Homo sapiens: one gene and its partners. The protein of the gene in region 4 interacts with the protein of the main gene of each other region in a pairwise test. Each region holds a gene or a part of one and is shown on either strand. Other genes may lie near its edges. The genes, in order: ZCCHC10, BANF2, NUTF2 and BEND7.

The links.
Region 1: the proteins of BEND7 (region 4) and ZCCHC10 interact in binary tests that used the Homo sapiens proteins (3 or more experiments, as listed by UniProt).
Region 2: the proteins of BEND7 (region 4) and BANF2 interact in binary tests that used the Homo sapiens proteins (3 or more experiments, as listed by UniProt).
Region 3: the proteins of BEND7 (region 4) and NUTF2 interact in binary tests that used the Homo sapiens proteins (3 or more experiments, as listed by UniProt).

Annotation. Positions count from the first base shown.
Region 1 is NC_000005.10:132,996,462-133,002,559, reverse strand, and holds the end of ZCCHC10 (zinc finger CCHC domain-containing protein 10), read left to right. Parts: intron 1-2,140; exon of another isoform or gene 2,141-2,164; intron 2,165-2,358; coding exon of another isoform or gene 2,359-2,386; coding exon 2,387-2,428; intron 2,429-3,709; coding exon 3,710-3,977; 3' UTR 3,978-5,575; downstream 5,576-6,098.
Region 2 is NC_000020.11:17,730,947-17,736,385, reverse strand, and holds the end of BANF2 (barrier-to-autointegration factor-like protein), read right to left. Parts: intron 722-5,439; coding exon 575-721; 3' UTR 515-574; downstream 1-514. UniProt on the Homo sapiens protein: May play a role in BANF1 regulation and influence tissue-specific roles of BANF1.
Region 3 is NC_000016.10:67,842,873-67,849,956, reverse strand, and holds the start of NUTF2 (nuclear transport factor 2), read right to left. Parts: upstream 3,025-7,084; 5' UTR 2,972-3,024; intron 2,766-2,971; exon of another isoform or gene 2,264-2,765; intron 1-2,263. Other genes in the region: THAP11 (THAP domain-containing protein 11), read right to left, coding at 6,458-7,084. UniProt on the Homo sapiens protein: Mediates the import of GDP-bound RAN from the cytoplasm into the nucleus which is essential for the function of RAN in cargo receptor-mediated nucleocytoplasmic transport.
Region 4 is NC_000010.11:13,497,998-13,505,030, forward strand, and holds part of BEND7 (BEN domain-containing protein 7), read right to left. Parts: intron 5,597-7,033; exon of another isoform or gene 4,864-5,596; intron 2,683-4,863; exon of another isoform or gene 2,513-2,682; intron 2,084-2,512; coding exon 1,781-2,083; coding exon of another isoform or gene 1,742-1,780; intron 1-1,741.

The DNA of each region.
Region 1 (6,098 bases), on a different chromosome or scaffold from region 4:
AAAATGTTTGAAGACCCCTGTCCTAAAGAATGAAATACGGGTTATGAAAATTTTCATTCTAGTTTAGGCGCACACCTATAATCCTAGCACTTTGGGAAGCTAAGGTGGGAGGATCACTTGAGGACAGGAGTTTGAGACCAGCCTGGGCAACATAGCAAGTCTCACCTCTACAAAAAATAAATACATAAATAAAATTTTATTTTGACATTTACTTTTGTTTTTCTAATTGTATCTCACAAGTATTTTGGTCTAAAAATATATATAATTACATGAATCTGGCTCTGTTAAAAAAGATTGCTGGCCAGGAACCTTGGCTCACACCTGCAATCCCAGCATTTTGGGAGGCTGAGGCGGGTGGATCACAAGATCAGGAGATCGAGACCATCCTGGCTAACATGGTGAAACCCTGTCTCTACTAAAAATACAAAAAAATTAGCCAGACATAGTGGCGGGCACCTGTAGTCCCAGCTACTCGGGAGGCTGAGGCAGGAAATGGCATGAACCCGGGAGGTGGAGCTTGCAGTGAGCCGAGATCCAGCACTGCACTCCTGCCTGGGCGACAGAGGGAGACTCCATCTCAAAAAAAAAAAAAAAAAAAAAAAAAAAGATTGCTGAATTTTGATTCAGTTATAATTTAATAAGTATACTTCACCCTCTTATTTTATGCCCAAAATGACAATTCAGTAAGTAATTCCATTGTGTAAAAAACTTTACATAAATACATGTTTATGTTTGGAGACTCAGGAAACAATGATGGAAGCATTATCTAGGAAATATAGAGAAGGCCAGGATATAAAAACATTGGCCATGTGTGGTGGCTCACACTTGTAATCCCAACACTTTGGGAAGCTGAGGTGAGCAGATTGCTTGAGCTTAGGAGTTCAGGACCAGGCTGGGCAACATGGTCAAACCCCGTCTCTACAAAAAATACAAAAGTTAGGCATGGTGGTGCGTGTTGTAGTCCCAGCTACTCCAGAGGTTGAGGTGGGAGGATTGCTTGAGGCTGGGAGGCAGAGGTTGCGGTAAGCCAAGATCATGCCACTGCACTCCAGCCTGGGTAACAGTGAGACCCTATCTCAAAAAGAAAAAAAAAAGTTAAATTTACAGGACAGTGGTGATAGAATTAATTGTTTTTTTCTTGTTGTTGTTGTTGTTGTTGTTTTTATTTTGAGACAGAGTCTTGCTCTGTCGCCCAAACTGGAGTGCAATGGTGCGATCTCAGCTCACTGCAACCTCTGCCTCCCAGGTTCAAGAGATTCTCCTGCCTCAGTCTCCTGGGTAGCTGGGAGTACAGGCATGCACCACCAAGCCTGGCTAATTTTTGTGTTTTTTTTAGTAGAGACAGGGTTTCACCATGTTGGCCAGGCTGGTCTCGAACTCCTGACCTCAAATGATCTGCCTGCCTCGGCCTCCCAAACTGCTGGGATTACAGGTGTGAGCCACCGCACCTGGCCTAATTGTGTAATTTAAAAACCTGATTTAGTATGCATGTTGTTTGACAGAATAATAGCAGCAAGCTATTTGTCCCTTTCATTCAAATTTACCAGACTTTATAACTAATGTGAGTGAGCATAGTTTTGAAGTATTACATTTCTGGTCTTTAAAGAGTAAATAACTCGGCCAGGCAGGGTGGCTCACACCTGTAATCCCCAGGACTTTGGGAGGCCAAGGTGGGCGGATCATGAGGTCAGGAGTTTGAGACCAGCCTGGCCAGTATGATAAAACCCTGTCTCTACTAAAAATGTAAAAATTAGCCGGGCTTGGTGACACACACCTGTAGTCCCAGCTACTCAGGAGGCTGAGGCAGAAGAATTCCTTGAACCCAGGAGGCGGAGGTTGCAGTGAGCCAAGATCGCGCCACTGCACCAGCCTGGACAGCAGAACAAGACTTTGTCTCAAAAAAAAAAAAAAAAAAGTAAATAACGGGACATGCAGAAAAAGAAATAGTTATTTTAAATTAAAGGGCTGCTTTTGAAAAATTATGAAATGGCTATTTGTATGATTCTGAGAACTCAAACTACAAATTAGGGCTATTGTGCTATTAGCTTTGTTCTGTTGTTCAGGAGGTAGTGATACAGCTATATCAGCCTAAGTTCCAGACTAAAAAAATTTAATCATCTTAACTACTAACCTACCTGACTTTTATACACGTGCTAAGATGCATTGTCTTGCTTAAATGCTGGTTAAGTTGACTGCATGTACCGTATACAGCCTACAATGGCAGACTTTCCACTTGCTTATAATAAGAAATACTGTACTCTGTATGTGATAAAAACACAGAATCTTTCTCCAGAGTAAAATGATTTGGGGGATAGTAGAAGGGCTTGTCTGAGCTGTGTATAATCACTCTATTAACAGGAGCTTTTTTCCCCCTCGTGTTTATCAGCATTGGAGAAACCAATGTAGAAAGAAAGGCCAAGAAAAAAAGGTATGTGTGGTTTTAGCAGTGTTTTATAGATAACATGTAATACTAATTGGCGGGATGGGAAAGGTGATTTTAAAACAATAGCTATGCCAGATGCAGTGGCTCATGCCTATAATCCCAGCACTTTGGGAGGCCAAGGTGGGTGGATCACCTGAGGTCAGGAGTTGGAGACCAGCCTGTCCAACATGGTGAAACCGTGTCTCTACTAAAAATAGAAAAATTAGCTGGGTGTGGTGGCACATGCCTGTAATCCCAGCTACTTGAGAGGCTGAGGCAGGAGAATTGCTTGAACCTGGGAGGCAGAGGTTGCCATGAGCCAAGATCATGCCATTACACTCCAGCCTGGGCAACAGAGCGAAACTCTGTCTCAAAAAAAAATAGCTATAAGATTTGGATCTGAAGCCTCTTACTGCAATTTATAATTAAATAATCATCCTATTTTCTGATAAGTTCCTTTTTTTAACCTGTCTGGAAATGCATTGCTTCCATTTCTCCTTTTACTCCAACTTTCTAGAGTCCTTGTACGTGGAAACAATAAATAATTGTCTTCTCTTGGCTTAGAATAGGAAGTGTTAATAGACTGGTAAGAAATTGTTGGCCAGCCATATCTGGTCTGAAGTAGTTAAAATAAAGATGATGAAACAGTCACCAGCTAAGCTACGTGAGGTTTAAATAGACCCAATTGTTATACTGCAGCTTTATTCTGACATTATTCCCTCTGAAATGTAATATAGTAGATATGCTTATCTTGAATTCCATCCAAGAGAATTAAGTTGCTGAAGTAACAATGCCTTGTAAAGAGAGGGACTGTGGTTTACAACAGGCAATCTCCAAAATATCAAACCTAAGGATAACATGCTAGCAAAGCTTCAATATATAAGCATATATATGGAATCATATGAAATCGCTTTTGGCTGGGCGCGGTGGCTCACGCCTGTAATCCTAGCACTTTGGGAGGCTGAGGCGGGCAGATCATGAGGTCAGGAGTTCGAGACCAGCCTGGCCAACATGGTGAACATGATGAAACCCCGTCTCTACTAAAAATACAAAAATCATCTGGGCGTCGGTGTGCGCACCTGTAATCCTGGCTACTTGGAAGGCTGAGGCAAGAGAATTTCTTGAACCTGGGAGGCAGAGGTTGCAGTGAGCTGAGATTGTGCCACTGCACTCCACACTGGGCAACAGAGCAAGACTCTGTCTCGAAAAGAAAAAAAAAATGAAATTGCTTTTAACATTCTATTACATGTCACCTTCCCATGTATATAACTCTGTATTGTCTAATAGGTCTAAGAGTGTAACCAGTTCCAGTAGCAGTAGCAGTGACAGTTCTGCCAGTGATTCTTCATCAGAGAGTGAAGAAACATCTACCTCTTCCTCCTCAGAGGACAGTGACACTGATGAAAGCTCCTCTAGTTCCTCATCCTCAGCCTCCTCCACAACCTCTTCCTCCTCCTCTGATTCAGACTCAGATTCCAGCTCTTCCAGTAGCAGTAGCACCAGCACAGATAGCAGCTCTGACGATGAACCACCAAAGAAGAAGAAAAAGAAATAGAGTTGCTCCATTCATATTGGACTGATGGACTGAAAACATTGATGTGATTCTTGAAAGGGAATTTAGAATATGTTAAGGCCAAGTAGGTTAACTGGTGAACATTTCTAGAATTCAAAAGTTTCTAAATGTTTTACATTGTAAGAGCATAGAGAATATTAATAATGGCTTATAGAGAGAGACTTTTATTTGAAGGGTGAATCTTGTTTTTTTTATCTTTAAAATATATCTCTAGAACTTAAAGCTGAAATCTGCAAATCTGTTTGTGTGATGAAACTATCTTTTCTCTCTGTGAAATAAATGCCATACTTTGTTATATATGTTAGTGGTATGTATCAGACATATTTTCAGGATGGTGCGTCAGGATATCTGGCAGTGGATTTCTAATGCTTTTGGCTGTATGTTATGTAAGATTTAATATGTTGTTACTGTAAGCTTAGGAGTTTTCCTACTATTAATAAATGTGCTCTATTTTTACATTTATGTTCAGAAAGTTATCTGACTTTTTGTCCTAAGTGGTATGTTCAAGGAGCCTATTAATATATTTATAGTTTTTGAATGCTGTAAGTTTCAAATTGCTGTGTTACGTCATTCATTTTCTTCTGGTTCCTTAAGTTTTTCAAGTTATCCTTTTCTGAGGAAAATTATTCTAGAGGAACCTAAAAAGGGACAAAAAAATTGAAACTTCTTAGGAGTCTAATCTTGGTGCCTTCTGTTAAAAGTCAGTGTATCAGAAAAGAAAGCAGCCATGTAAGAGGCTAACTTAAATAGAAGTGCTAGAAATATCTTTGTGTATTAACATGCAATAAAAGGTACCATTCAAAGCAGGGGGAAAGGTAGGAAGAAGAGGTAATTTTTACTGAAAATTAGGGCAATGTTGGTCGCCTTTTATTAAAAGCTTTTTTTAAGCTTTCATAAAGATTGCTTTTTGCTATTTTTGAAAATATGGTATTATAGTTTGTATGGTAACTGGTCATATATGACAGTCTACTGCATATATATGAATGACTAGGATTAATCTGGTGTGTTTACATAGGATATACATAGTTGAAATCTAGCATGAAAGGTTAAAAAGGAGATACTGCACAATATTTCTTAAAAGTAAAATGCTGTTATTGTGATGAGTCTTTGGTTTAACATCACAGTATTCTGTGATGTCTTTTTAACTTTTTGGAAAGAGGTATCATTTGTAGAAAAAATTTGATTTGGGTTAAATATAGGTTTTTAAAACTATAAATGTTGTCTTTTTTATATTTTTATGAAAAAGCAGTAGAAAATTACTTTTGAAGAAAACAGGCTATTTAAATATTGAAATATATGTATGTTGTGAGTTTAAGGAGCCTGTAATTGTCAGTTTTACAAAACCATCTGTGTTCAATGGTTGTAAATAAATTCTCAAAACATCATTTCAAAGGCTGCCTACAGAATATTATCACTTGACAGATAGAGTTAATAAATTACCAATCAGGCACATTTTATAATGTTTGTCTCTGTAAAGGTAATATTAGCAGTTAAAGAACACGGATGAGAAAAGAATGTGTTACATAGGTTGCATCACTTGCAGTTAAATAAAACTCACAATTTGTGCTCACAAGCTTAAACTTCTGTTATCTCTTTAGTGTTTTATTTAATGTCAGTTATTCCATTTGAGGTGTAAAGACATTTGAACAAATTCCAATTTTAAAGTTTTACTATTATGGCTGTTAAAAGTATGACTGCAGAGGTACAGAGAGCAGGAACTCAGTTCTTCTAGTCACACATTTCATTCAAAATGACAGAATCAGGCTGGTCACAGTGGCTCATGCCTGTAATCCCAACATTTTGGGAAGCCAAGACGGGAGAATCACTTGAGTCCAGGAATATGAGACCAGCCTAGACAACATAGTAAGACTCTGTCTCTACAAAAAATTAAAAAATTAGCTGGGCATGGTGATGTGCCCCTATAGTCCCAGCTACTCAGGAGGCTGTGGCAAGAGAATAGATTGAGCCCAGGAGGTTGAGGCTGCACTGAGCCATGAGTGTGCCACTGCACTACAGCCTGGGTGACAGAGTGAGAAAAAACAAAAAACAGAATCAATGGCAAAGTGGAGACTAACTTCTAGAGAGTTTTATTTTTAGTCCTGC
Region 2 (5,439 bases), on a different chromosome or scaffold from region 4:
TGGGAAGGCCCATGTGGTGAGGAACCAAGATGTCTTGCCAGCAGCCATGTGAGGCAGCCATCTTGGAGGTGGGTCCTCCAGCCCTGGTCCAGCCTTCAGATGACTGCTGCTGGGCCAACAGTGAGTAATCTCATGAGAGACCCTGAGACAGAACCAGCTGGCTAAACAACCCTCAGGTTCCTGACCCTCAGAAACCCTGTGAGGTAGCATCATTGTTTGTTTTGAGAAGCTGCTACATGTTGGGACTATTTGTTATGCAGCAATAGATGACCAATACACTGACTTAAAATTCAATTCCTATTTTTAAATAAAATTATCCATTCTTTCATATAAATTTTTTGCTGAAAGATATTTGACATGATATTCATCTAAGAGGATTGACTATGGTTTCTGGGTGGTGGGTTTGGGAGTCATTTCTCTTGCATTTGTCCTGTTTTATGTTCTTGAACTACTGCTTATAATGGGAGTGTATCATTAAAATTAAAAACACAAATGAGGACTCGGAGCCTGGGCATAGGTGGAGAAGGCGTCATTTTCCCCAGAGGGTGGTGGGGGGCAGCAATGAGGTTTGTGTCTACAGGAAGCAGGCACACCACTCCTTGAGGCAGTGAGAAGTCTGCTGGGCCTCACACTCAGTGGCACCAAAACAGCAAATGAGCCACCTCTGAAACTCGGCTTCATTCTTGTGCATCAGAAGGAATTGTCCCAGCAGGATGTAGGCCTGGGGAGGGGATGAGACAGGGAGGAAAGCAGGAAAGGTTATCATAAGCCAGCTCAGACGCGCTCTTCCTTCCCAGCAACCAGGGCTCACGTGACAATCAAAGGAGGGGGAGCAGGGCCGATTCAAGGGAGCCTGTCAGTCCTTGAAGCCCTGACATGGGTCTTAGCCCTGGTGAGAGCTAAGGCCAAGTTAAATGCCCATCTCTCAGGGCTGGTTTGCGGGCCGTCCACCCTGGAATGAGTCAGACCCTGCCCCCTTCAAACTTTGACAAGCACATGAATCATGTGGGAGCTTGTTAAAATGCGGGTTCTGAAAGTCTAAGTCCAGGGAGAGGCCTGCATTTCTAACATGCTCCCAGCTGCTGCTGGTCCAGGGACAACAGTTTGAGTAGCCGGGGCCTAGCACACTCCTGAAGCTCCCTTCAGACCTCCAGTGAAGCATTTCTCTTGGAAACACACACATAACCCAGACAGAGTAAGAGACATTCCCGCCCCACTACTTCTGCAATTGTTGTAGCATGGGATTTCTTTTCTTTTCTTCTCTTTTCTTTTCTTTCTTTTATTTGTTTATTTATTTTATTTTTTTGGAGACAGAATCTTGCTCTGTCGCCCAGGCCGGAGTGCAATGGCGTGATCTCGGCTCACTGCAACCTCCGCCTCAAGCGATTCTCCTGCCTCAGCTTTCCAAGTAGCTGGGATTACAGGTGCCTGCCACCATGCCTGGCTAATTTTCATATTTTTAGTAGAGACGGGGTTTTGCCATGTTGTCCAGGCTGGTCTCGAACTCCTGATCTCGGGTGATCCACCTGCCTTGGCCTCCCAAAGTGCTGGGATTACAGGGGTAAGCCACTGTGCCCATAGCACGGGGTTTCTAAACCTCGGCACTATTGATATTTTGGACAATGCTTGAAATGTTATGGGGGGCTGTCCTGTGCATTGCAGGATGTTCAGCAGCACCCCTGATCTCTACGCATGCCGGTGGCACCCTCCCTCCCCGACCCAAGTAGCGACAATCATAACCATCCCCAAACATTGCCAAATGTCCCTTGGGGGCAAAATCTCCTTGGGCTGAGAACCACTGCACATGGGGCTGACAGATGAATGGCATCTTAGCATTGATTTGTTTTTGCAAACCACCTGTGTGATCTCAGGCAACTCATGTAACCTGAAGTAAGAACCCACAGAACCTGGATCTCAGTTTCTGCACCTTCCTAATGCACACGGTGTGCTCTGCAAATTAAATTAAGTGAATTAAATGGGAAGGCATTCAAAAAATGTAAATTCCTCTCTCATACTGGGAGCTGTAGTTCTGTAGGAGGAGCATAGAAGGTTTAAAACATGCTAAACCTTGTCCACGTTCCCCTTCCTCAGTCTCTGTGGATAAAAAATACATGGAAGATAAGCACTCAGTGCACTGTGATTTCTATTTTTATGGCATTCTCAAGCTTTCTAGCTATTAATACTTGCCTCGAGGCTTTTAATTCATCTTTTATAGTTTTATTACACCATTATTGACAAGGCACAAGGACCACATGGAGGAAGGGAATTCCCAAGGCCACGTAGCCAGAAACTAGCCAAGCCACTAAATGGTGGAGGCTGGAGAGCTCAGGTCACATTAAACGCCCATCTCTCAGGGCTGGTTTTGGGGGCTCTCCAGCCTGGAACCAACAAGAACCAGCATCCACCCATGCCTCGAGTTCTGGGCCCTTTCCAGGAAAACCTGATGGTGTCTGTTTACTTTTAGTTATGTAAAATAAAGCAAACTTCATCTTAACCAAAGAGAGCATACTTTTTAAGAAGAGAAATCAAATAAAAGCTGAATCCCAGTCATAAAATATACCCAAGCATTGAATTTTGGGGGCTTTATTTTTAGTCATGGTCCAGTTGTTGATAAGAGAAAAAAGCCAGGATTTTGTGGTGATTCTGAACTGCTACTTTAATCTTTTTTAAAAAAAGCAATATAGTTACTTGGCGTGATCTCATTTTACTTTATCAGTATCCTCCCATTTTGAATGGATTTTACTGAGATGTATTTAAATTAATGTTTTTGAAAAATAACATTTATTAAGTGTTAATTGAGCCAGTAGACGTAGGTGTGGGAGGTGCCAAGGTGAAGGTAACAGAAACGAGAGACATAGAGCTGTGTCCAAGGAGAGAGAATATTAATAATAATTAACAATAATTAATAGTAAGTGGCTTACACAAAGCTTTCTCCATAAAGAGAAATGTTCATGATAATACTTAATAATAGTAGTTAATGCTAAGTAGCACTTTTTAGCACTTCTGTCGGCCACGTGCTGCTAGACACCTGACACGTTTTAATCCACCTGATCCTCACATGTACTCACCCCTCCCATTCCCCAGGTGGAGGTACTAAGTCTCCTGTTTTCCTCTGCACTATTCCTGCACTTCCCAACTGTCCACAGTCTGGCCTGGAGGCTAATGCATCCCCTGCCCGTTTTAGAAGTGGCACTGCCAGCATCAGCTGGCCTGTTAGTGAGAGCCTCCACATACCCACAGGCTCAGCAGCCAGGATGCCTGGGAACATGTGGACCCTGGGCAAACTTTCCAGGAATGCTACAGGAAGCCCCGTCTTGCAGCCTCTGGAGCCAAGTGGCAACCTGACACTCCCTCCTCAGTTTTCCCTCCTGTCTCCCTGTGGCATCTTCCAGGAGGGAAAGTTGGCTTCCCTTCTCCCTTCTTCCCTGAGCACTTCACCCTGCTCCCCAGGGAAGCTGGAGTCGTGGGCTCCCATCATGGCCCTGCCAGATGCCCGCTTGGTTTCTCCCCCGGCTCCAGAAAGCCCCCTAATCAAGGAGAAAAGATGCTGCCCCTTTCCCTCCTTGGGCCAGAGCTCCCCAGAATTCAGCTACTGGGGTGGGAGGGGTGACACAGAAACACAGAAACCCTGAGCAGCTGTCCCTGTCCTCCTACCACTCTGGACAGTGGCCGTGGCCATGGCCAAGCCAGGGAATTACATTCCGTCCTGCAGCTGTAAGAGGGGGGGCTCGGCCAGGTGTGGTGGCTCACTCCTGTAATCCCAGCACTTTGGGAGGCTGAGCGGGCAGATCATCTGAGGTCAGGAGTTCGAGACCAGCCTGGCCAACATAGTGAAACCCCATCTCTACTAAAAATACAAAAATTAGCCTGGTATGGTGGCAGCCGCGTGTAATCCCAGCTACTTGGGAGGCTGAGGCAGGAGAACCCAGGAGGTGGAGATTGCATGAGCTGAGATTATGCCACTGCACTCCAGCCTGGGCAACAGAGTGAGACTCTGTCTCGAAACAAACAAACAAAAGGATGGGGGCTCAAGGGCAGAATGCCCCTAAACTCCAAGTGCAAACAGTGAGGTTCCTCCAGGGGCCGGCCCCCAAGCAGGGGAGGAATCACCCTCCAGTTTGCGGTGCCCACTTCTTGCTAAACAGCAGCAGTTTGAGCCTATGCCAGGGTTGGGTTCCCTTGCATCTGAGCCATGTTTTCACACAGCGCCTGGTGCTAAGAGCACCCTGAGCTGGTTTAACACTTGGCTCTTGTCATCTGGAAATTCTTACTAAATTTCTTTTATTTTTTTATTAGTTTTCCTTTTTTTCTTTTTTTTTTTTGACGACGTCTCCCTCTGTTGCCCAGGATGGAGTGCAGTGGCACGGTCTTGGCTCACTGCAACCTCTGCATCCCAGGTTCAAGCGATTCTCCTGCCTCAGCCTCCCGAGTAGGTGGGACTACGGGTGCGTGCCACCACGCTTGGATAATTTTTTGTATTTTCAGTAGAGACAGGGTTTCACCAAGTTAGCCAGGATGGTCTCGATCCCCTGACCTCGTGATCTGCCCGCCTCGGCCTCCCAAAGTGCTGGGATTACAGGAGTGAGCCATCACGCCTGGCCTACTTTTTTTTTTTTTTTTTTTTTTCCTAAGAGACGGGATCTCATTCCGTCACACAGGCTAGAGTTCAGTAGCATGCAGTAGCTCTTGGCAACCATAAATTCCTGGGCTCAAATGATCCTCCCACCTCAGCCTCCCGAGTAGCTGGAACTACAAGCACGTGCCACTACACCCCCTAATAAATTTGAACTAGAGGTCTTGCATTTTCATTTTACAGTGGGCCCTAAAAATTAAATAGCTGGCTGAGATCCACACTTATTAAAATGCTCAGTACTCACCATAATGCTGGGCCTTGTCAAGCAGAGATAAGCTGTCTCTGCCCTCTCTTGTTCTCTAGCTGCTTACAATGCCCTCTGCCCAAGTCCGCAGGTCCTGAGCACCTGTGCTGAACGGACTTCAATCACCACCAGACTCCATGGTGCAGTGACACAACTTTCTTTGATTCTCTCTCGCCAGTCGCCTAAGTCTTCATGTCATTTCAGGTTTAAACTCTTGTGTGTTTTTTTTTCTTCTTCTTTTATTTTGAGACAGAGTCTCACTCTATAGCCCAGGTTGGAGTGCAGTGGCACGATAGCGGCTCACTGCAACCTCCACCTTCCAGGTTCAAGTGATTCTCCTGCCTCAGCCTCCCAAGTAGCTGGGATTACAGGCATGCACCACCATGCGTGGCTAATTTTGTATTTTCTATACAGACGGGATTTCACCATGTTGGCCAGGCTGGTCTTGAACTCCTGACCTCAAGTGATCTTCCCAAAGTTCTGGGATTACAGGCAGGAGCTACCACGCCCGGCTTAAACTCTGTGTCTTTGGTGTGAATCCTCACTTCAGGGAATGTTTACC
Region 3 (7,084 bases), on a different chromosome or scaffold from region 4:
GCCGGACGTGGTGGCTCACGCCTGGAATCCCGGCACTTTGGGAGGCCGAGACGGGCGGATCACGAGGTCAGGAGATCGAGACCATCCTGGCTAACACGGTGAAACCCCGTCTCTACTAAAAATACAAAAAGTTAGCTGGGCGTGGTGGTGGGCGCCTGTAGTCCCAGCTACTCGGGAGGCTGAGGCAGGAGAATGCTGTGAACCCGGGAGGCGGAGCTTGCAATGAGCAGAGATCGCACCACTGCACTCCAGCCTGGGTGACAGAGTGAGACTCCGTCTCAAAATAAATAAATAGATAAAAATAAAAATAAAATTAGGCCGGGATCAGTGGCTCATGCCTGTAATCCCAGCACTTTGGGGAGGCCAAGGCAGGTAGACCACCTGAGGTCAGGAGTTTGACCAGCCTGACAAATATGGTGAAACCCCTTCTCTACTAAAAATACAGAAATTAGCCAGGCATGGTGGCGTGCGCCTGTAGTCCCAGCTACCAGGGAGGCTGAGGCAGGAGAATCGTTTGAACCCAGGAGGCGGAGGTTGCAGTGAGCCGACATCGCACCACAGCACTCCAGCCTGGGTGACAGAGAGAGACTCCGTCTCGAGAGAAAAACAAAAACTCTCCTGGTCAAGTCACCCAGGGCCATGAAATACGCAAACTACGCCATAGCCGTAAGCCAGCTCACCTGAAATCTGTGTCCTAGAAAGTACCCACGCAGACAATCTACAGGGTCTTGAAATAACTGCTTCTAGTTCTAGATTTCACCTCATTGTCCTGTGGGTAGTCCCTCCTTATTGCCCAGCTCCACTGGCAAAGTTGGCCTCTCCTGAGCCTCTTGGATGAACCTGATTTCCATGTCCTCATGGGCCAGGATATGGACTAGGAAAGTTACATCCAGAGAGAAGGCAGGGCTTGGTAAAATCTGAGCAGCATTCTTGCCTATTCTTCCTGACCAGGGAGAATAACTAGGCAGAGCAATTCATATGCAAGAAAACTTCTAGGTCAAGAGTACTTGGAAGAAGTGACCAGAAATGAACAGAAAAACATTACCTGGGAAAATATTCAAGGAGGAAGAAAAAAATATGCAGGGTCAGTGGCTTTCTTCACCTTGGGTCTCAATCAGCCCTTCTAAGAGACCTGATATTCTGCTTGCTCCTGAGGCCAGAGCTGCAGAGATTGAGCTGCTGCTGCTTTTTTTTTTTTTCTTTTTCTTTTTTTTTGAGACAGAGTCTTGCTCTGTCGCCCAGGCTGGAGTGCAGTGGCATGATCTCTGCCCACTGCAACCTCTGCCTCCCGGATTCAAGCGATTCTCCTGCCTCAGCCTCCCAAGTAGCTGGGATTACAGGTGCACGCCACCACACCCAGCTTTTTTTATTTTGGAGACAGAGTCTTGCCCTGTCACCCAGGCTGGAGTACAGTGGCATGATCTCAGTTCACTGCGACCTCCACCTCCCGGGTTCAAGCAATTCTCCTGCCTCAGTCTCCTGAGTAGCTAGGATTACAGAAGTGCACCTCCACGTTCAGCTAATTTTTGTATTTTTAGTAGAGATGCGCTTTTGCCATGTTGGCCATGCTAGTCTGGAACCCCGGACCTCAGGTGATCCGCTGGCCTTGGCCTCCCAAAGTGCTGGGATTGCAGGCGTGAGCCACCGCGCCAGGCCTGAGCTACTTCTTTAGTCTCTGGAAAGACTGCGGCTCAGAGAAATCAACGCTTTACATGCCATCTCTCCCCTAGTCCCAAGGTCTTCTCTGGACTGGTTCCTTAATTTACCATCTCTCAATCAGAAGCGCCTTTACAAAGGATATCAGGATAGTATTTTTTGGTCAAAGATAACTCTTCCCCCAGAACTCAGTAGGGTCTCTGATGGCATCAGTAAGGGCAATTTCATAAAGCAACCAGGTTCCTGCCTGTTTACAGGCAGCTCCAGTTGTTGGGAAGTGAGCAAGCAAGTGAGGGGAAGCCAGACTTTCTGGAGCTTCCAGCCCTAGTTCTGCCACCCAGGCTTCGGGAGGGCCCCACAAAGTCTGAAATCTACGTGCCCCACCCCCCAAAGCCCCTTCCAGCCCAGGTTCTGGTTTAGCACTAGGCTCAAGAACCTCAGGCCTGAATTCTACTTCCCGTGCATTAAGTCCCACCTTAACATCCCATTCTTATGAAGTCATCCTGTCCTGCGGGGCAATTCTGTGTTGCTGCTGGGGCCTGGTCACTGATAGAGAAGGGCGTGGGCTGGGCCTACCCGGCAGGAGCCGCCTCACCCCATCAGGCCCAGATCCTCTAAGACAAGACAGGGATAAAGTCTCCCGTGGAATCCCCTCCCGCCTCATATTCCCTGACCCTGCCCTCCCTGCGAGAACTCCAGTCCGGGCTCCACAAAGGGCGCGGTAAGAAACGTACACTTCCGAGGGGCAGACAAGGAGGGGGCGTTCACCTACACCCCGGCCGGGCTATGGTCGGGAACAGGGTGAGGGGCCCAAGCCCCGGCTGCGGCAGGCGGGCGCCCTTACCCATGCTGACTCTGGAGCGGGCCGGGTGGCGCTGCCCATCCCCGGATCCTTCGTAGGTGGGTAGCAGGACGTGGGGCTGGGGTCTGCCCGCTAGCCAGCCTGCAGAGCTTGCGGGGCTCGCGCAGGCCGGGCCAGGCTAGACGGGGCGGGGCCCTAAGGCCCCATCCGGACGGTCCTGACTAGAGAAAAAGGCCTGGCCATGGCGCAGGCCGGTGCACCAGCCACCAGCACGGTACGGCCCAGATAGGCGCCCGGCTGGCTCTCTGTGCGTTACCCCCGGCCGCCGCCTCACAGGACCGGCGGGAGGCGGAGCCGCGCGCGACACATGGCCCGGGCCCCGCGCGGCTTCGGGCCGCCGGGGGGGGGGGAGGGGAGGGGCCGCCCGGGGACTCTCAGCGGAGCCTCCCGGCAGCCCAGAGAGCGGCTCCTGCGGCCCAGCCCCCGCCCCGGCGTGCTGGCCCCGACACTCACCCGAGGGGCTGGCACGATGGCGGCAGCGGCAGCGGCAACCCAGCGCGGTCTGCGGCCGACTGTCCCTTCCCCCCTGCCTTCCTTCGCCCGCCCCGCTGCACTCTGGGAGACGCAGTCCCACCGCCCCCCCTTTCCGGCATGAGCGCGCCGAGAGAAAACTACAATTCCCGGCGTGCTATGCGCGGAGGCCCAGACACGGCCCGCAGCGCGGGAGGTGAGGCTAAGCCAGGGAGGGAGGCTGCCGGGGCAAGCCCCTGAGAATTGTGGTCTAGCGGAAGCCTCTGGAACACTAGAGGTTGGCGCCAGGCTAGGGTCAGGGCTCAGTTGTCTCCTGGTCTCAGCTGGCTCGGCCCCGCCCAGTCTGTGCACTGGGGTGGGGGTTGGCCCCGCCTCCGTGGGAGCCCAGCCCGGCCCCAAGCTGGCCCAGCTGCCCCTCCCTGGGCCCCTGGGCCGTTTCCGCTCACGAAACCCCCTCCCCTTGGGGCTATGGCTGCCGCTGTTACTCTTCCGAGCTGTGTGGCCTTAACCAGCCCGGGCGGAACGCACAGCTCCTGCAATCCCAACATTCGTGCGCCTGCACCTCGGCGAGTCGGGCCCAAAGCTGGTTTCGAGCAGGCTAGGCTATTCTTGGGCCGGAGACTCAAATGTCCCTCAGGTGGGGCTTGGTTGGAGAGGTTACCCTCAAACTTCTACAGTCAGGGGTCCCCCCAAAACATTCTGTAAGGTTTTTTTGCAGCAGATAGAGCAGCTAAGTGTTTCATTTTTATTAATGAGGAAAGAGAAATGACTGACTTACCCAAAATTTCGCTGTGATTTAAGTGACCAGATTGTAAATAGTTCTCTTCCTACCCATTGCCCTTTCCTTTCAACGCCCATTTGTTTTCTTGGTAACACAAACATTTGTGGTAAGGCCAGTCTCTAGGTCAGACCTGTGCTTGGCAAAGAGATCTGCAGCCAACTTGGGGTACCACAGGTAAGGGAAATGGCTACAAGGCCTCTCCAGGCAACTCCTAGCCTTCCTTCCTGGCCGGAGGTCTCTCAGTACTCCTGTTCTTCCACAAGAGTTTTGCACCTTCCCCCACCCACAGGCTACCCCTCCAAGAGATGGCTGGTAAGACCGGACCACACTTCTGTTTTTTAAATCTCAGGTCTGTCAACACTACACTTTGCCTGACTAGATGCTTATTACTCAGCTAGTGAGAACTCTGCATTGCCCCGCTTATACATCTGCATCTGGGATCTCCCTTGCTCTGTGAACTGTCTTCTTCTCCCTAAGAAGCCAAAACACTGCCCATAACCTCCAGACACCAGGGAGGGTCCAGGGAGTACTGCTGAGAGCCTCAAGGGAGCCAATGCAGAAACAGCAGAAGTCCCTTCAATAAATAGGAGCTCAAGGATACACTGAAGAGCATGGCTGGATCCTGGAAAAGGCCTTGCTCCGACCGGGAAGATGTGAGACTGGCCCAATAGGAGCAACAAAGGGCACTGCAGTGCTTCCACCACCTGATTACCAGCCAGATCTAACCCTAGGAAGACAGAGGTCCAGTCCATCCCCCAACCAGCCACCTACACAACCTATGTCTCACTCCTTCCCCACCACTTTCCCAACTCAGTGCTAAGGGACTAGAAGGGAAACAGAGACTTGAGTTTTAGGACCATCCCAGCATGTTGCCACAGACAAGTCCCCAGGCAGATGGCTTTGTCCATAAGTAAGAAAGAGAAGGGAGTCATATTTTATGGGGTCTGAAAGTCTCCGTTTGTGCCCCACCACCCACAGTAAACCCAGAGCTTTAAAGGCATTTACTTTTAGACATTGGCTTTGAGCTAAATTACTTGGAGCTATAGACAAAAGCAATGTAATCCTTGCCCCTTCAATATTCAATCTAAGAAAAAATAGAGGCTGGGCGGGGTAGCTCACACCTGTAATCTCAGTACTTTGGGAGGCAGAGCAGGCGGATCACCTGAGATCAGGAGCTCGAGACCAGCCTGGCCAACATGGTGAAATCCTGTCTCTACTGAAAATACAAAAATCAGCCCGACGTGGTGGCGGGTGCCTATAATCCCAGCTACTCAGGAGGGTGAGGCAGAAGAATTGCTTGAACCTGGGAGGCAGAGGTTGCAGTGAGCTGAGATCACACCATTGCACTCCAGCCTGGGTGACAAGAGCAAAGCTCCATCTTAAAAAAAAATAAAAAAAAAAAAATAGAGGCAGGCAGCCAAGAAAATGAGTCAAGGAATCACACCTCCCAACTTCTTAATGCTCTCTGTGGATACAGCTCTGTCACACCGAAGGTGTACCAAGGCCAAGGTATCTATACAACAGTCCTTGTGCCTGAAGCAGCCCTGGCTAGCTCCAGCTGCGCTCTTACCGGTTCACAGAGTAACTGCATGCACATGCATACCAGAGGCTGTGCTAAGCCTAAGGGATGTCATGGTGAGCAAAATTCAATCCCAGCTGAGAATTGAAACCCTCAGAGGCGAACTATCACAATATAGCTTAGTTACCAGTTGGTCCTTCTTGTTGAAAGGATACAGGGAGATAATCCATGGACAAACTGGGCCCATTTGGTGCAGTTTCCAAACTCTTTAGGGTGAGCTGGGCCAGGAACTCTGTGAGGACCTTATAAGGCCAGGATCCATGTGCTTAGGGCCCATTTTTGGAAAAACTGGTCATTGAAGCATCTCTACTTTCAGGGTCAGCCTGGTCTTTCAGAAAGGCTGAGGCCTATTTCCCCATGTTTCAAGGACATTTAACTATGTTTTTGTAAAAATAAAATGGCGAGACCCAAATAAAAACCTTACTTTTTGTTTAATTTGTTTTGCCAAACAAACACAGTGAAAACTTTAGTCTGACTAATTGTACAGAAAATAGAATTTGTAACCAGTAGCAAACAAAACAGGATAAACCTAAGTCCCTGGCAAGCTGGATCTCCATCAGCAGGTCATCCAGATCCCCTTGTAAATGGCCTCCTGGGAAAATAAGTCCTAGGAGGCAGAGGCACAGATTTACCAGTCCCCATCAGAATCACAGGCTGCACCTGGGAAGGAAAAGCATGAAAAGGAGGAGAACTGATGTTACTTGAATCTCTTATCACTACACACATTAGAGTTGTCTGACTGCTGACCAACCTTAAGGTATGGTTTTCCCAAACCTATAGTCCCTGGACATCCCACCTGCATCCCTAGAGGGTAAGTTTCAAGTTCAGTGGTTCTGAAGCCTCTGCTTAACCAGAATCTGCAACAATAACTGGGGAGGAAGGGTAGACAAAGTCATAATTGCTGGTGTCACCAGGGCAGAGTCTAAGGCCCCAGCTTCCACTTCAGGAGGAAACAATTGAGGATGCCAGGTCACCAGCAAGAGAGTCCAGCTGCCTTAAGCCTCAGTACTGTCAACCAGTGCCCAGGAGTATAGAGGAGTTCAACAATGGCCTGCGGTCCCCTGGCTGGATGGGGTCTGGGAGTCCAGCAGGCTGCCGGGGCACCAGTTCACATTCCGTGCTTCTTGCGGATGACAGCCATGGCAAGCAGCCGATCCTTCTCACGCAGTTCTTCGCGCAGCTTGGCCTCAGTGAGACGCAGGTGGCGAATGCTGCCTTTCATCTCTTTCATCTTCACTTCCATCAGAGCCAGGATGTCCCGCTGCTCATTCAGCTTGCGCAGGAGCTCCTCCTCCGTGGTGCCTGACGACAAGGAGTACGAATGGTCGGAGCCAGTATCAGGGAAGCCCTCTTCCCCTACCACCACCAACTGGGGGCCCATAGGGCACTCGGCAGCCTCCAGCCCTGCGGTAGCAGCCTGTAACTCCGACGCGGCGGCCGCAGCGGCTGCGCCCTCTGCGGCTGCAAACTCCACTTGCACTGTGAGATCGATGGGCTTCACGTCTTCTCCAGTGGGAGTGATGGGCGCCGGCTGTACGGATCCCGGAGCCTGACTGCTGTCTACAGTGGCCTGAAGGGTGAGAAGCACGGCCGCGGAAGCAGATACCAGGTTCGGCTGCAGCTGGGCAGTCTGGGCAGTGGAGGCAGAGGGTGAGGACTGCTGCTGCTGCTGCTGCTGCTGCTGCTGTTGCTGCTGCTGCTGCTGTTGCTGCTGTTGCTGCTGCTGCTGCTGTTG
Region 4 (7,033 bases):
ACAACTTTAAAATTATAAATAATCCCAATGAAATACCAAAGTAGTCACAGTTATATGTAATATATTTCTTTTTCTTTTTTTTTTTTTTTTTTTTTTGAGACAGGGTCTCGCTCTGCTGCACAGGCTGGAGTGCACTGGTATGATCTTGGTTCACTGCAACCCCTGCCTCCCAGGCTCAAGCGCTTCTCATGCCTCAGCCCCCCAAGTAGCTGGGACTACATGCATGCGCTACCACGCCCGGCTAATTTTTGTATTTTTTAGTAGTGATGGGGTTTCGCCATGTTGGCCAGGCTGGTCTCGAACTCCTGGCCTCAAGCAATCCACTCATCTCGGCCTCCCAAAGCGTTAGGACTACAGGCACGAGCCACCACGCCTAGCCATATTTCTATTGAAAACATAAAATATCTATTTTCAAACTGATATGGGGGAATTTATGTTTGTAACTTTTACTAACTTCATACTTTTCAAAGTAAATCCACTGTCCCTACTGTATACTGGGAAACAGAACACTGTTCACCCAAAACTTACTGATGTGGGGTTTATTAACTTCATACATACCTAAGGGTATTTTATTTCTCTTATTGTCTCTTCCATGGTAGTAGAGTTAGAAAGGTCTTAAAGAATATTTCTAGTCACTATTCTAAGTACCATCTTTTATCATTTTTAGAAGACAAAACCAACCCTTTTCAGCTTGTTATAAATCATTTTCTAATTTTAAAGAGAACTGACTTTTTATTTTTATGGAGGAGTCTTTAAAGAGCTGTGTCCCTCTAACCTGGAGGCATGCCAGCATTGGAACTTTGATACTGGCTTATGTACTACTGAGAGGCAGAGAAGACACCCATACATTTCTGGGGTCCTTCGCTGTCTCATCAATGTCTCAGGATGGCTTTTCATGCCTCTGAACCACAAATTGTGTTTTTAAAAAAAGTCAAAACAGTTCTCTTTTTCTTGAAGGATATTGTGAAATGAAAATGAATGGAAAAAAATCCTTAACTTCTTAAGGAAACTGAAAATGCTTTCTTACCTTTTTCTTGTTCTCTTTGTGAAAACTATAGATCTGCACATCTCTACAGAGTTTATAGAACAAATATTATAGCATCCAGTGTGGCCGGATAGAAAACTAATATGACCACAAAAAGCATCAGGTTTTTCTCCTTAAGCTTTGAAAAAAAATTGTCATTTGATTCTTTTCTTAACAATTAGGAAACTTAAATTAAGAAAATTTTACTTTAAAGGAATACTTTCCATTGCTAATGAAGCATGTTACAAAATATGGATCACTGGGTTCAGTACTGACGTGGGATGCTGGGTTATCGGCCCCCCACCCCTGTCCGCCCCCGCCTTTATCTGGGACTCTTCTGATAATGAGTAAGGTGAAGGAGTAACCAAGAGGATATGTTAGTAACACACCATAGGACCAGGAAGCTTCTTTTAAAGACAGTGGGGAGCTCTTTCTGCCCTAATGTTCAGGTTTTTTTTGTGACAATAATATCCATACATGGGCACAAAATGATCGCTTTAACCTCTTAAAGGGCTAAAATCTCTACCAGGAAATCTTCACTTATAACATAGAACCCCCTGTCTTTCCTAATTCTCAATTCTGTTTTTTAATAGTCTTCAACTCTTTCCTTTGTGTCTCCCTGTCTTTTAAAGTAACTCAGCAAAGGCAGGTAATTATGGGAGGGTTTAATAAATTGAACTCAACACACTGAATATTTAGAAATAGAACAGTACAAACCCCCATGAGAGCCTTCTGAATGTTTGTTGACAACCATACCATTGGAGCTCGTGGTAGGGTGGGGCTGGCTTTGGAAGGTTCTAGAACGGGTGCCATACTGCCCTGAGAACTGTCCACTCTGGGGCGGTAGCTCATTCCACACACCACGTGAAGACGGGTGGAGGCTTTGCGGGGCCTCAGCAGAGGAGTTCAAACGTGGAGGCCAGACTAAATCCAGGTCCTGGGGCTCTTCTTTTAGTTTCTCTCCTTCTTTGCCAACTCGCTGATAGATCCGCCCAGTGCTGTCGTTCAGCAATCTTCTCATCCCTGTAATTTGCTTTTTTATTTCCATGCTTTCATCTCCTAATGGAAACAGGGCCAAAGTTAGCACTCTAAATTAGTGAAAGAGAAAACAGTTCACTAACCAAAAAGAAGAGAAAGAAAAACAACCCTTCTTTGGAAATGGGAAAGATGACTGACTCTATGAACTTAATCTGTAAAACGCAAAGGCAGGAAAACTGACTACGGTCTGAAAAAACCCATCCTATTCCTGGTGCCTCTCATTTTAATCTCTTTCTGCAAGTCGCTTATGATGAAAGAGGTTTCTTGAGAGTGTGTCATCAGGAACAAACATGACATTCCCTCTTTGGAAGCATTTTCTGAATGAGTAGGTGATGAGGAAACAGGCTGAGACAGAAGGTCAAGGATAGAACTGGACCGCGGAACCCCTCTGCTCTGATGGGCCACAGCCACCCGTGAGGAATGGGCAGGTCACTAAAGCGCTCTGCTCACTGTCTGTCAGCTTCACCAGGCGGGGCAAGGACAAGGAAGAAAGCCTGGACTGGCAGGGACGCAGGGCTTCACTACTGACACAATGTCCTTCAGGATGACTGGCAGGGATGCAGGGCTTCACTGCTGACACAATGTCCTCCAGGATGACACGCTGCCGCTGGAGACATCACCTTCAGAGAGGACGGCCGAGGAGACAGAGAGGCGCCGAGTGTGGCAGCATGGCAAGCGAGGGGGTTTTGTCTTTCTGGCACTCTGACTCCCATCACATCAGCCTGGTGATGACCGAGGGGTCCCTGCCACTCGAGGTCACTGGCGGTACCAGCACTGGAAGGGCGGAAGTGCAACCTCCCCACCGTGCCCTCCTCCCATGCCAAACGCACTGCCACCTCCCCTGCAGCGTAACTGTGTGCGAAAGGTCACAGGCCACTTTGAAATCCCACTTCACCTACACTGACTTCTTTTTTTAAGATTTTTCTCCCGTCTCAGGACATTTTTTTAAAATGAAAGAACTTCTATACTGCACTGGGAGTACTTAATAAATATTAAAGATGTCTGTAATATTGCACAGATAGAAAATCTTTTTGGCCGGGCACAGTGGCTCACGCCTGTAATCCCAGCACTTTGGGAGGCCGAGGCGGGTAGATCACCTGAGGTCGGGAGTTCGAGACCAGCCTGACCAACATGGAGAAACCCTGTCTCTACTGAAAATACAAAATTAGCCAGGCGTGGTGGCACATGCCTGTAATCCCAGCTACTCACAAGGCTGAGCCAGGAGAACCCGGCTCACCCAGGAGGTAGAAGTTGTGGTGAGCCAAGATGGCACCATTGCATTCCAGCCTAGGCAACAAGAGTGAAACTCCATCTCAAAAAAAAAAAAAAAAAAAAAGAAAAAGAAAATATTTTCTATCAATAATAATATCAGAGGATGCTGATATCTGTTAGGAGCTATTTCAAACACACTATCTTCTTAAACTGTGCATCAGCCAGTATCTTCATAAAGATGAAGAGAAATGAATTTTTTTTTCTCAAACCCAAAAGATAAAATCTTAGGCCACTGTTGGGCATGGTGGCTCACACGTGTAATCCCAGCCCTTCGGGAGGCTGAGATGGGAGGGTCATTTGAGCTCAGGAGTTTGCGACCAGCCTGGGCAATATGGAGAAACCCCGTCTCTACAAAAAGTACAAAAGTTAGCCCAGCATGGTGGTGTGTGCCTGTGGTCCCAGCTACTTGGAGGCTGAGGTGGAAGGACTGCTTGAGCCCCGGAGGCAGAGGTTGCAGCGAGCCGAGATTGTGCCACTGCACTTCAGCCTGGGTGATAGTGGCAGACCCTGTCTCAAAAAAAAAAAAAATCTTAGGCCAGGGTATGTGTGTGTAAACATTCATGCAGTTACTCTAATAAATGCTTGAAATTTAAACTGTAAGATAAAGAAAAGGCTAACAGACAGCATCTGTTAAGAAAAATACAGCTCCTACAAATACACACAGCACATTCAATATAATGATTGCACTTAGGATCAATTATAATGATCAATATATGTATATATAAGGATATGTATATATATATATGGATCAACATAATGATTGCACTTAGGATAAGCCAGGTTTCTCTGTAGAACTGGTAACTGCACAATAACCTAGCCGTTTTGTGCTTTCCAGTTAGATATTTAGCTTATTAATATATGTGTTATGTTACTAAATAAGGAAGTTTATTTTGAATTTACTGTTCACTATTTTGAAGTAAATATCTTTAGTTTTTAAAAATGATACTAAAAACATTACAGAATATATTAATTCTGTCTAATTGAACATGAGTGAACACGGAAATAACACAGATTTCCAAATTTACAATATTGCTATGTGTTGTTGGCATATGCTTGAGAGGAGAAATATTCTAATTTGAGATAAAACTATTTCTACTTCAAACCCCTGTGAAAATTACAATATATAAACAATAAATCATATTCCAGATTTTATGAGAATGAACGACCAAGCGAGATTTCAATAACGCAGAGTCAGCAAAATTTACTACTTTCTCGAGAGGCTACGGAACAGGGTGTGTCTGGAAGAGGTCCCAAAGGAATCCTGAAAGATAAGCCCACAGGCAAATGCGGTATTAATTTCAGCAACCAGACACATACGTTCCCGGCTAGTTAACACCACAATTCAAGCAAGAGGAGGCATCTTTTCTGTGTGGTTTCCACCCACAGCCCTCCCCATCAGGCCGGGTATGCCTGCACTGAAGTCCATGCAGAGACTAGCCTTCTCTGGCACAGGTTGGTGGCCGCCACCCCTGACCCCAGGCTCCCTGAACAGAGCAGCCATAGCCAGGCCACATGGGGCAGATACCCACCCCGGCTCTCAAGTCCATGCCAGCTTGCTTCTCTACACTAACTGACACATCACAGGAGAAGGGATGTGTCTCCTGCCAAAGGTCCTGCCTCTGCTCTGTAGATATAATGCTAGGATAGATACAGTGCTACCATTAGCAACAGGAAGGCGTCACAAGGATTCTGGAACCTTCTGAGGGCAAATCTGCTTTGTCATGACCTCAGTTTCAGAGTTCCAGAACTTATGCCTATGAAAAGTACATGGCTGAAAATACAACCTGAGTTTTGCATAACTTTGTATTTTCATTTTGACAACCAGCATCCTAAGCTGCAGGTGGCAATGAGGGAGGAAGGTGGCAGGTGTGAGGGGTTCTGGCGGTGGGCTGCGCCTGCCGTGTGCAGAAACATGTCTCCCAAAGGCAAAACAAAACGAAACAAATACACAAAAAATCAGGACGTCGGGGGACTGAGGAGGAAGAAACAGTGCTGAAAGGAAGAGGGCAGAAGGCCAGAAGCAGGTCCCTCCTCAGAGGAAGTAAGCTCACGGCCTAGCTCACTGTGGCATGTTTTAAAGGATGGAACACATCCTTTAAAGGATGGCACAGTGGCTCACACCTGTAATCCCAGCACTTTGGGAGGCTGACGTGGGTGGATCACCCGAGATCTGGAATTTGAGACCAGCCTGGCCAACATGGTGAAAGCCTGTCTCTACTAAAAACACAAAAGTTAGCTGGGCGTGGCAGCGCGCGCCTGTAGTTCCAGCTACTCGGAGGCTGAGGCAGGAGAATCACTTGAACCTGGGAGGCGGAGGTTGCAGTGAGCCAAGGTTGTGCCACTGCACTCCAGCCTGGGCAACAGGGTGAGACTCCATCTCAAAACAAACAAACAAACAAACAAACAACAACTAAAAGGATGGAACACAGAAAACTGCAGTAACTGCAGAAGTCTGTGCTGAGAGGAGAGCTGAGAGGTGAGCTGAGAGTCGGCAGGGAAGGTTGAAGAAGGGCAGAGTGTGGAAAGTTTCTTAGGGGAGATGACGGGACGTTCAGGAATGGTCTCTGGGGTTTACTGAGTCACACTCTCTTCACCCAAAGCAGCAGAAGCAGCTGAGCAGGTCACCCCTGCAGCTGCTGCCTAGGAGGAGGGAGTCCTGGGGCTCTACTCCACAGCAGGGAATGATGAGTGACAGGCTTTGGCAGACAGGAAGAAAGAGGTTTCCTTGCACATTTGGGGCAGGTGGGGCAGAGGATCAGAAACGAGGCCTGAAGACTCCAAGTGACAATGACAAAGAAGCTGAGTCAACCTAAATAATCTGGGGACAGTGGGTGCTGGGAGCAGATGAGCAGGCCGAGCCGTAGAAGCTCGTTGAGTGTGGTGCAGTGTTAGTGTGGGACAGGACAGGCTGGGCTATTACACCCACACCTGGTCTCGCCTCCTAACTACGCCCACCTGCTACTGGATACTAGCCAAGCCACTGAATATTCTCTGGTTTCCTAAATCCTAAAGCAAGAGTCTGAACCCTAACCCGGGGAGGGGCACATGGTAGTCCAGGAGGGGCACAGGATTTTCACCATCACCAAGGTGTTAACCAAGCACTTTGTGGCTCTAGAAGTCCTTTTCGGAAGACAGGCTTCTTCTATCATAGTGGAATCCAAGTTCTTTGATAAAAAAAAAAATTGGTGAAAAGTATACAGGAGATTGAGATTGGAAGCATTCACTGACTTCTACTGGTATTTCCAGTTATCATTAGTCAATGACTTCTCCAGGTATAGATACCAGGAAAAGGAAGCTCTTTGGAGCAACGAGCTCTCTAGCGAGACAGGATGCTATAAGGAAACCTGTGCATTTTTCCTGATCTCTTTCCAAGACGCTGAATCCTTTTCAGAAAAACAAACACAAAGGAATCTTACTAAAATGGATCCATGCCACGTGACTACCTTATTGGCAGCCTGAAATCCTTTGGAGTTTAGTAACTATACTCCTTGGACAAGATCTAAAAAGATTGTATGCTGGATTCTCCCCCTCACTAAATTTCAAGACTCTACTAGATCACGTTCCTTTACGCAAAGAATTTATGACACATAGTCTTGCAGGATCTGATACATGTGAGGGCAACACAGAAGTCAACACACAAGGTTGCCCTTAACTTGGCTAGGAGGGAAGGATCCACTACGTGGAACACGATTATTCACA